Homo sapiens: one gene and its partners. The protein of the gene in region 1 purifies or fractionates together with the protein of each later gene. This does not show direct contact. Each region holds a gene or a part of one and is shown on either strand. Other genes may lie near its edges. The genes, in order: NLRC5, ATAD3A and IFIH1.

Region 1 (4,079 bases):
TTCAATTCTGTATGGAAAACAGAGCAGAGATGCTGGGATGGTGTATTCGTTTCCTAGTGTTGTCACAGTACTGCTGTATCTGCTGTCACAAAGTGCCACAAGCTGCGTACATTAAAACAACTGAGATTTCTTCTCTCGCAGTTCTGGAGGTCAGAGTCTGAGATCGAGGTGTGGTCAGGGCCGGGCTCCCTCTGAAGGCTGGAGGAGAGGATCCGTCCTTGCCTCTCCTGGTTCCCACCGGCTGCTGGCCATTCTAGGTGTCCTGTGGCTCCTAGATGCATCGCCGCACTCTCTTCCTCCTCCGTCCATGATTGTCTGATCCCCGTATGTCTCTGTCTTCATGTGTCCATCTCCTCTCTTATAAGGACACCGGTCCTATTGGATTCAAGGCCCATCCTACTCCAGTATGACCTCATCTTCACCAGTTATATCTGCAACAGCCCTATTTCCAAATAAGGTCACGTTAGGAGGCGCCGAGGGTTAGGCCTTCAGCATATCTTTTGTGGGGAGGCACAATTGAACTCATAACAAATGGGAAAAGTCATGCTAAGAAGTTATGGCTGGGTGTGGTGGCTCACGCCCATAATCTCAACACTTTGGGAGGCAGAGGCAGACTGATCACTTGAGGCCAGGAGTTTGAGACCTCATGTCTATTAAAAAAAAAAAAAAAAAAAAAAAGGAGTCCGGGCAAGATGGCTCACGCCTATAATCCCACAGGAGGCCGAGGCGGGTGGATCATCTGAGGTTGGGAGTTTGACACCAGCCTGGCGAACATAGTGAAACCCCATCTCTACTAAAAATACAAAAATTAGCTGGGTGTAGCGGCGGGCGCCTATAATCCCAGCTACTCGGGAGGCTGAGGCAGGAGAATCGCTTGAACCCAGGAGATGGAGGTTGCAGTGAGCCAAGATCGTGCCACTACACTCCAGCCTGAGCAACAGAGTGAGACTTCGTCAAAAAAAAAAAAAAAAAAAAAAGGAATAAAGAACAACAACAGCAAAAGAAGTTTTGCTGAATTTTCCTCAGAGGGGAAGAGGGTATGTGTGTTGGGGTCTGAGGAGGCTGACCCGGCCCTGTGGACACCCGGACAGCTCTGTATCTGATCCAGGAATAAAGTTCAGCATATTGTGAAACTCTTCCAAGATCTTTCCCCTCTGCTTGTCTGTCTTCTTCAAGGATCCATCTCCCCTCACACTTGTGCAGCATTTTAAGGTTGATCAAGGCACTGGGTGGGCGTGTATCATCTCATTCAATCCACAAAACACACTTTGTAGGATAGATTTGCATATGTTCATTTTACAGACGAGAAACCAAAGTTTCGAGAAATTGAATGGTTAGTTCATGGTCATCCAGCAAATACCAGTTGTTGAGAGCCCCAGTCTGTCTGCCGTCCACACCATGTGCAGGTCCACCTGGCAATGTGCTTCAGGAGACAAGGCGGGTGGGCATCATGGATGGCCATTCTGGGCTATGGTTCAGTAAGTTTTGCAGAAAGCACGCTGGATGGGAGTCTAGATACACCTGAAAAGCATCAGATACATCTAGATACATCTGAAAAGCCCATGGCTTTTCAAGGTTTATTTCTCCCTTAGAGAAACGGAAGGTGATTTGAAGGGACAATGAGGCTCCAGGATCTGGCCCCGGGGTACTCTCTGCCTCCTGCTACCCCCGGGTTTTAGAGGCTGGGAACTGCCAGTTTTCAAACTGCTTTTTAGGTCTGCAGAAACTTCAACCTTTTAAAAAAGGAAACATAAGAACTCCAACTTATAAAATGGACGCAAACGGCACTGAAGGTAGGAGCCTCTTCCGACCTCCTCGAATGATCACCCCAGCCAGTTTCAGGTCCTGGCTTTCTGGGTGAGAATAGTGACCGAAAACCACATGGGAATGCAGAAAGCAAGTAACAAAACAACACCCACGTATTCACCTATCACTTATGAGGTTAAATGTTCCTTAGAAATAATCTGGAGATTTGACATTAAGGAATAACTATTAAAATGTTTGTAGTATGCTGGTGGTACTGTGGTTTTGTTTTTAAAAGATGCCTTATCTTTTAGTACATTCTGAAATACCTCAGTTGAGATGCTATGCTGTCTGCCATTTGTTTCAAAATAACCAGCGGTGGAGATTGGGCTACCTAGGTGGCCTTGGGGTCGTGAGTAGGTGGCCTTGGGGTCGTGACTGTCCAAGCTGAACGTGGATAGGTGGGGCTTCATTATATGAAAACCCGCAGGTGCAGAAGGCTCAACCTAATTCTATTCCTTCTACTATTGTATATGTTTGGAATTTTCCACAATAAAAAGTTGTTTAGGCCAAAAAGTCTAAATTGCGTACAATGAACAGTGTAACTTCCGTAATTGTTTTAAAATCAATGAAAAGTTGCAAAGTAAAAGACAGAGAGAGTGGGTGGATCCGGTAGGTGACAGGAGCTGCGCAGGGAGGGGAGCACAGCCGCTTACTGTGTCCCCCCATCCAGGCGACCCTCATCTGCCATCCTCTGCGGGCCGGCAACTCTTCCTCCAAACTGCCGGGGCGCATGCTGTGCGCGCTGCCGGGCCACTGGCGCCCTGTCCGCTTACCCAGCTATCCATCGGCCAGCCACCCGGCCACCCGCACCTCCCGCTCCAGGGCCTCTGACATCCCCTCCACCCCTCTCCGTGCAGAATTCGAACCCCGATCCTCTCCCTTCCGCTCGCCCCAGCCCGGGTCCCGCAGCCCCGCGGCACGCCCGGCACTCACCCTCAGAGCTCCCGGCACTCACCCTCAGCGCTCGCGGCTCCTCCGCGCTCTGCACGAAACTGAAAGTAGAAGCCGCCGCCTAGAGCTGCTCCGCCAGTGCATGGAACTGGCGGCTGCTGCCGAGAAATCACGTGGATTCGAGGTGCCAGCCCGAGCCAGATGGGGCTCGGGCGCGGGATGGGCGGGGGCCTAACACACCCGCTCCCTGCTGCGCCCACACCCTGGCACCTCCCCACAGCCCCGCATCGGACCCAAGGACAGTCCCAGGAGACGTGGGGGCGCTCACCCCTTTCGTGGACGGGAAACTGAGGCAGGCGGGTGAAGGTCGGCTCACATGCGGAGCTCAGGTGGGTGGGGACCCTGGGCCAAGACCCTGTCTCAGTGCCTCAGTGGGGACTGGGTTGGATGGGAGGGGGGATACGGTGCAGGAGGAGGGGACTTAGAACCAGGGGGAGAGCGGAGAGCCTCCAGGATGAACTAGGGGAGAAGGGAATGGCAGCAGCGTTCGCTCCTATTCACCGAACCCCTGGCTGGCTGACCCGGGAAAAACAGTCTACCAATTTATCTCATAAAGTAACCCTAAAATACTTCTGCAGGCATCACCCTATGTTCCAGGTGAGCCACTGAGGCTCAGGGAGGACAGAGGTGAAGGATCTTGCCCCAGTCACAGGAGGAATCACAGGCAGAAAGGGGGAGATGGAAAGAGGTAGGAGGGAGAGCAGGGAAGGAGAGGAGGGACTGGAGGGGGCAGAAGGAAGGGGAGGTGGCTGTCCCAGGATGGAGTCAGGGGCCATCCTCAAAGTCCAGCTTCAGCTTCTCCAGGTTTTTGCCCACATCCTGGGACAGGGGGCTCCTCTCCCCCTGGACATACTCATCCGGTGGGCAGCTGTGCCTGCTAGGAAGGCCTTCTACCCACCTCCCAGACATCCCACAGGGAAGCAACTTTCACTCCCAGACCGCTGGTGCTCCCCTGCCTCCCAGGCCTGGGGTGGGTGTGGGTGAGGACGCTGCAAGGTAGTGGTCAGGACACAAGCATCAGCATCGGACATCCCTGGTTCAAGTCCTACTCAGAGTGGGAAGGACACAGACTTTGCAGTGATTCCTTGTGTGTGACTCCCAGCTTCACCACTCCTGGTTGTGCAACCTCAGACAAATGCCTTGACCTCCCCTGGCCTCAGCTTCCTTATCTGTCAAGTGGGGTATTCCTAGTCTCCCCAGGCCACTGAGGGGCATGGTGGGAATGGATAAGAATGTGGGTGTGAGCTGTATGCATGGGAGGGATTGATTATGTTCCAGTATGTGCCTGCTAGGAAGGCCTTCCACTCACCTCCCAGACATCC
Region 2 (3,239 bases), on another chromosome or scaffold:
GGGCCACCGAGCCAACCGGCTGCTGTACAGATGTAAAAGGGACCTCGTGGACGCCCGGGCCGGCGGGACTGGACAGCAGCCCTGGGCCCAGGTTGTCCGGGGCTGTGGCCGGCCGGGAGAGTCCAGTGGAAGGTGCTGTCTCTTCTTTTTATAAAGGGGGTTGGGGTGTGGGCTAGGGTGGGGGTTGGGTTAGGGGAGACCCTGCAGTTGGGGGGCAGGACACAAGGGCGGACTCATCCCCAGCGGTGCTGGGGGGCAGGGAGGGTCCTGGGGGGCAGGGAGGGTCCTGGGGGGCAGGTGGGGGCAGGGGCGGCGAGGCGCGCGGCCCGGGCCAGCATCTGTTTGAAGGCGCTGTTTCCCGTGCGCTGCGTCCACCGTCTGTCTGGCCCCAGCCAGCTTGGGCGGAGGGGAGGGGGGCGAGGGGAGCACCCGCGTGTGCACAGCCACAGGGTGGGGTGCAGGTGGCTGGGCCCAGGCAGCATTCAGGCCCCTGGCCCCGCAGTGGCGGGCACTCATGTGAAGCCCACCCCTCTGTGGTCAGTAAATTCTCCAGAAAGCGCCAGCCTCCGCCTCTTCTGTCACCTTTGACCCCAGGGGGACGCTAGGAGGCCCCCAAAACCCCACCCCGTGCCAGCCAAGAGACAGACAGGGCAATGAGGCACCTGTGGGACTTTATTAGGTAAACAGACCCCAGCTCCAGCCACAGGCTTGGACCGGCCAGCTGACAGTGCGGCCTCAGACACCCCCGCCAGGTTCCCTCCTCCCTCCTCTCTCAGGGTCACCAGTGTGTGAAAGATCGGGGCATGCCGGCCACAGGGGGAAGCAGGGTTCAGGCTGCCCCACCTGGGTCTGGCCCTGGCAGGCGCCCCCTCACCTGGCTCTGCTGTGGGAGCCGAGAACAAAGACATCACCTGCCTGGCTCCTGCTGCCCCGGGGGCTCAGCCAGCACCCACCCTCACAGTGGCCTGGGCAGGGGCTGGGGTGCAAAGCCTCACCCTCCCCCTGTGAGCCAGACGGAAAATGCATCTCCCAAGAGTGTCTCGAGGGGCAGGAAGGAGGCCTGCCCCTCCCTAGCCAGTGCCTACAACAGGGGGTGCCCTGGGGGGCAGAACGGCCGACCCGCACCACAAGACATCCTGGGGGACAGAGGCCCTGGGCACAGCCCAGTCCCCACCCAGGAGCATATCCTAAATGTGCAGGGGCCGGCAAGGCAGGGGTGGGAGGGGTCCGCGGCCAGGCTCCGTGAGCTGTGGATCTCCCTGTGGACTCAGGATGGGGAGGGCTCGTCCCCACGCCCAGGCCCTTCCGCCTTCAGCCAGCACATCTTCTGCTGGTGCTGCTGGACAGCATCTTGCACGCGGGTGTCCATCATGGCCTCGGTCAGGACCCCGTCCTCGGAGGCATACGCCGTGGCCTAGTGGGGAGAGAGGCAGCTGAGGGAGGCCGCCATGGGAACCCCCCACCCCAAATGCACGCCAGGGCCCCGAGGTGGGGAGGGACCAAACCAGGGGCTCCAGGATGGCCTGAGCGTGAAACACAGGCTTCCCGCACCTCGGCAGAGCCCAGCACGTGTGTGGACACCGGGAGCAGCCCCTGCAGTGCCCACAGCCCTGCCTGCGTCCTCAGCACTGCTGTTGCTCAATGACTTTCTAATAATAGAAAGCCCAAGGCGGAGCCTCACTGACCGCCGACCCAGGGCAGCTTCCGAGAGGCAGGTGGGAACTGCAGACCCTCTGCGAGTCTCAGCCGTGGCCAGGCAGTGCCCCCGGGTCATAGTGCACCTCAGACCCTCAGACCCTGACCCTCACAGGCCTCCAGGGCAGAGGCAGCCACTGCCCACCTTGAGGCACATGAGTGGTGGCACCAAGGCCACCTCTGCCCCCACCTCCCTGTCCTCCTGAGCACAGGGCTTGGCATCTGGCACGTGAAGGCTGGAGCTGCTGGGGCTGTGGCCCTTGGTGTGGCTTCAGGCAGCCTCAGGTCCAGCCCTTCTGCAATGAACGGGTCACTCTCCATCCCAATGCCAGCGAAGGGCGTGGAGTCCCCAAGGGGAGGCACCCGTGGGTCAGGGTCAGGGTCAGGGTGTGGGGACCCCCACTGGGCACCGTGCTCAGGAGCGCACCAGGACACCTGGAGGAAGCACAGGGCAGGGGACCCTTCCTGGACAGCTGAGTGGGTCCCTCGCCCCGTCCCAGCTGTACCTCCCAGAGGCAGGATTCATCTCACGGGGTGCAGGGGCAGCAGCACACCATCCTCCCACAACACCGTCGCCACGACGGAACCTGCCATGGGGATGACCACGTGGTGCCCGTCCCCTCTGCAAGCGCCCACCCCTCACCAAGAGCCACTGTGTGGGGAGACACTGACCGGAGCCGGACCACCACTGTGGGTCGGGGGCCCGGGAGCGCAGGAGACACTGACCGGAGCCGCACCGCCACTGTGGGTCAGGGGCCCCGGAGTGCAGGAGACACTGACCAGAGCCGCACCGCCACTGTGGGTCAGGGGCCTGGGAGCGCAGGAGACACTGACCAGAGCCGCACCACCACTGTGGGTCCGGGGCCCAGGACTGCTCAACATCATTTTTGGTCTTGAGCGCACCCAAGAGAGGGCAAACAGGTGCAGGGACCCTCAGGGTCCACCCGAGTGGCTGCACCCCACCCAGGGCCCAGCAGAGGAAAGGGGCTATGCAGATGCTCACGGGGCCACCCCTCCAGGAAGCACGGGACCTGGCAGGAGCCCACCAGAAGTGACAGCTAAATGTCACGTGGCGTCCTGGGTGGGATTCTGGGGCAAAACCCAGTCACAGGTGGGTCCAACAGTGACACATGATGTTCACCACGTGGCAAGGTCCCAGGCCCAGGAAGTCTCTGTGCTACTCTTGCAACTTTTCTGGGAACCTAAAATCTTCAAACTATAAAAGTTGAAAGACAAGACCTGGACCTGATGTCTTCACATGTGAATTCACAAAACATTAAGAAGAATCAGTATCACTCCTCAAACTCTTGGACAAATTGAAGAACATTTCCTCACTCATCCTAAGAGGCCAGCATTACCCTCATATCAAAGCCAGACAAAGACACCACAAGAAAAATGACATGCCAATATCCCTGATAAGCATCGTTGGAAAAGTCCTCAACAAAATGCCAGCAAAACCAATTCAGGAGTATAATAAAAAAATTATACACCCTGACCAAGCAGGATTTATTCCTGGAATGCAAGGATAGTTCAACGTACAAAAA
Region 3 (3,727 bases), on another chromosome or scaffold:
TATCTGGTCACAGGTTATATTTACCCAGATATACTTTAAGGTTAACTAGCTAATTTATCATTGCAAATGAATATGAATGACCCCAAAATATCACTGGAATCAAGGATCAAATATTGTTTTTTACTTTCTCTTTAGCTGTTGACCCTTAGTCAAAGATGGCAAGTCCTCTTTCTCCAGAATACATATAATGTGGTTTGGAGATAAAATTAAGTGAAGGTTTGGTATCTACATCAAGTTAAATAGATTTTAAAATGCTCAAGAAGTATACATATATATATATAAAATATACACATATTACATTAAATGCAACTGAAGTTTTCCTTCAATAATTTATATCTTAGGGTATTTGAAGGCCATCTTCATAAGTAAATATGTCTGCTTCACCGTAAAACAAAATCTAGTCATTTGAGCTTTATTCAGATAAATGACAGTTTATTAATTTATAAATATACAAATTGGGGATATGAATATTTACTATTTTATGGAATAAAAATGAGCATACTTTTCCTTGATCAGAAAGTCTTTTTTCTGTTCTTATCTATTCCTTTATAAAAAAAAGCAGTAGACTGTAAAATATTCTATTTTTTATTTCTATTATGCTAAAAGTTTTAGTTACATCCTGTTTTTCAGTACTTAGAATCCATGATTTGAATGATTCCTATCATGTAGTTCCAAATGCATTTTGTGTGCATCTGCTAAGTCCAAAGAGCTCTCCTTTATACTTGTATACTTACTATTAAAACACTTTTATTTATTTTGCTGGTAATGGTGACACATTCAAATTTGTTTGCCGATAGACTTGCATATGTATTCCCTTTGTACAGGATATTATTTTTTTAAATGAAATAGGTTTGAATCCTATTTCTACCTACCGGTACTTTGAATTAGACAAATTAGTAACTTCTCTAACTTTAATTTCTTCATCTGCAAAATGAACAAAATAATAACTACCCTGCTCTGAAATTTCAATTGGATTATATATGGCCTAGTAATGACTCCTGCTTTTACTCTTAAATACTAGCTTTCTCCTGCTCCTTTCTCTTCACCTTCATAACTCATGAAACTAAGTAACATAACCAGGGAGGCTTTTAAGTGCCAAATCCAAAGAAAAGAACCAAGTTAACTGGATTCAAAGCTACTTAAACTGATAATTTTGAAACCATTTGAGCATCTGCCATTTTCTCAAACTCAGCCTCACCATCTACCCTCCCAAAGGCTCCTCTTCCCCATTTACCTGTCTCTTTGTGAGTAATACCACCTCCTCCAAAGCATGCAGCCCCCACACCTAGGAGTTAGTTTTAATTCATCTACTTCCTTTATTTCCCTTATCTGGTCACAGGGACATAGGCTAATAGAGTTGAAAAGGGGCTTCGAGATTCAGCTTTCTTCCTTTGCAGAGTGGTTCTCTCACTTCTGCAGGGTAACTTCCTAATATCAAGGAGGTCCCCCTACTAACAAGACACTGACACTCTTAGAAAGCCCTATTTGTATTCATCCAAATCTGTTTCTCTGGAATCCCACAATCACCGGTTAGAGTTCCTTCCTCTGCAACCACACGAAGTCCTAATTCTCCAGCCTAATGACAGCCCTTCACATAGACAAGGCAGCATCATGTGGCTCCTAAGTTACTTTTTTTTGTTGTTCCTTGGAATAAATGTCCACAGTTCCTTTAACTGTTTTCCATATAACATGGTTTCTAAACCTGTCATCATTCCTAGTGCTCATACTCCTTCAGACATTTTTCTGGGACACTCTTAAATGCGGTGTCCAGAGTTGGGCAAAATACTACAGATAAGATCATACCAGTGCAGAGCGTAGGAGACATGAGATATGACACCCAGCTTATGACCGCATTTGCCTCTGGCATCCACAGACTTATCTGGACCTTGTCATAGAATCAAAATCCTCAGTTCCTTTTTATTTGAAAATCTCTTAAACTAGAACATTCTTAATTTATTTTTGTGCAGTCAGTTTCTGAGCCTAAATTCAAATACTTAGGTTTATTTCTTTAACTATTGATCTTTTCAAGTCTCATATTTTTGTATGTGTCTGATGCATCTTCCTTTCTATAATATTCCCTTCTCTTCTCAATGCTATATTCTAGCCAGGAATCTTTCATTGCATTGGATCTACATGATTCTTCGGAATGCACATTTATGGCTATGTTTAAATATTAATTTATCCTCATTAATTATTCACATTCACTGCATTGTTGTGTGGACACCTGGGGACTTGACTCTAATTCCTTATTGCTTTTCTATTGTTTTTCTCCTTAGAATTACTAGAAATCCCTCCACTAATTCTTCCATCTATGTCATAATTGTTTACTATACCATCTTTTTGAATTTTAAATTAATTTCAGTTTTAATTCTTTTTGATTGAGTCAGAACACCTCTGGCCCAGTAAGTCTAAGTAACCTGAATCTTGTGTTTGGCCCAACAACAAGGTATTGTTACCCTTGATCTAGAAAAAAGAAATCCTGTTCTCTAACACCATTTACTTTCATCTCCCTTCCTCCGTCCTTTCCAAAGTTATAGCCTTCGAATGCAGAGAGAAATGAAAACACCACCTGTGTTCCCAGACTTTCCATTTCCTATCTAGGGCTTCAACATCATGAGAGATAAATCCCAGGTTCCTTCAGATGCTGCAATGCAGCCCCATATGATTCAGCAGAAGTGGGTAGCAGTTGGGTTTGATTAGTCTTGGCAGGCACTCTGTCACATCTCAAGAAAAGGCTCCAAGAGGACCACACACCTCCCAATTAGCCATGTCAGACTTGCATCTGGCTTTCTCTGTGTCCTTCAGTAGGAAGTCAACACCACCCAGAGCGAGTATCAGGATTTCCAGCATCTGCTATCTCCTGTGACAACTTCTTTTTGTTCTGTACATCAGAAGGTGCGGCTTCTTTTGAAGATTTTTGACTCACCTTTTATGGGCAGAATTTTGTGGTGCAATGTCACTCCATAATACAGAGATTCTTAATTAAATCATTCAGCATGAGTGTATTTAAAGACAAATCAAATGTAGATCTTGTCCTCACGAAATATACAGTCTAGAAGAAAGATGAGAGATATATGTTGATAATATGATAATTAATATTTTATTGCACTTTATAAAGCACTCTCAGATATATTATCTCATTAAATCTACACAGCAACCCCATAAGGTAGTCTTTATTATTCTCATTTTTTCCCATCAGAAAACTGAAGTTTCAAGACTTTAATTGGCAATTCAGGGATCATCCAGCCAAGAAACAGCAGAAATGAGACACGAACTTTTATCTTCTGAGTCCACTGGTCTTCCTTTGCCACTGCACCCTCCTTCTAGAATAAAAGGATTGGTGAAATATCGTGGAAGTTTTAGTACTGACAATACAGCATCCTCTATTTCATTTAATTTTCACAACCCTATAATAGGTTAACATTATCCTCATTTTATTAATCTGGAAATTGAGAGCATTAAGATGATTGAGACCTTGTCCAAGGTACAAAGAAGTAAGTGGCTGGAGTAGCTGTTTTCAGGGCTTTCTTCCCTCTGCATCATGCTGTCTCTTTCCACTAAACTTAATTTCCATTCTTTTCCTCAGAAGCCTTCTGTCTTGCATAAATGAAATGGAAAGAATACTTCTAGAAAATGATTCAAGAACGGCTTTGTGGAAGAGAGAGAGAAGAGCAGAGCTGTGACTCTCAAATTTTAAAGGCTTAAATGTCATTAAAGTGAAGGTTTC

Evidence for each region.
Region 2: the proteins of NLRC5 (region 1) and ATAD3A purify together in Homo sapiens (affinity purification with mass spectrometry, with the first as the bait; one study listed by BioGRID). This does not show direct contact.
Region 3: the proteins of NLRC5 (region 1) and IFIH1 purify together in Homo sapiens (affinity purification with western blotting, with the first as the bait; one study listed by BioGRID). This does not show direct contact.

Annotation. Positions count from the first base shown.
Region 1 is NC_000016.10:56,988,278-56,992,356, reverse strand, and holds the start of NLRC5 (protein NLRC5), read right to left. Parts: upstream 2,801-4,079; 5' UTR 2,740-2,800; intron 1-2,739.
Region 2 is NC_000001.11:1,532,101-1,535,339, reverse strand, and holds the end of ATAD3A (ATPase family AAA domain-containing protein 3A), read right to left. Parts: intron 1,415-3,239; coding exon 1,268-1,414; 3' UTR 655-1,267; downstream 1-654. UniProt on the Homo sapiens protein: Essential for mitochondrial network organization, mitochondrial metabolism and cell growth at organism and cellular level. May play an important role in mitochondrial protein synthesis. May also participate in mitochondrial DNA replication.
Region 3 is NC_000002.12:162,284,116-162,287,842, reverse strand, and holds part of IFIH1 (interferon-induced helicase C domain-containing protein 1), read left to right. Parts: intron 1-3,727.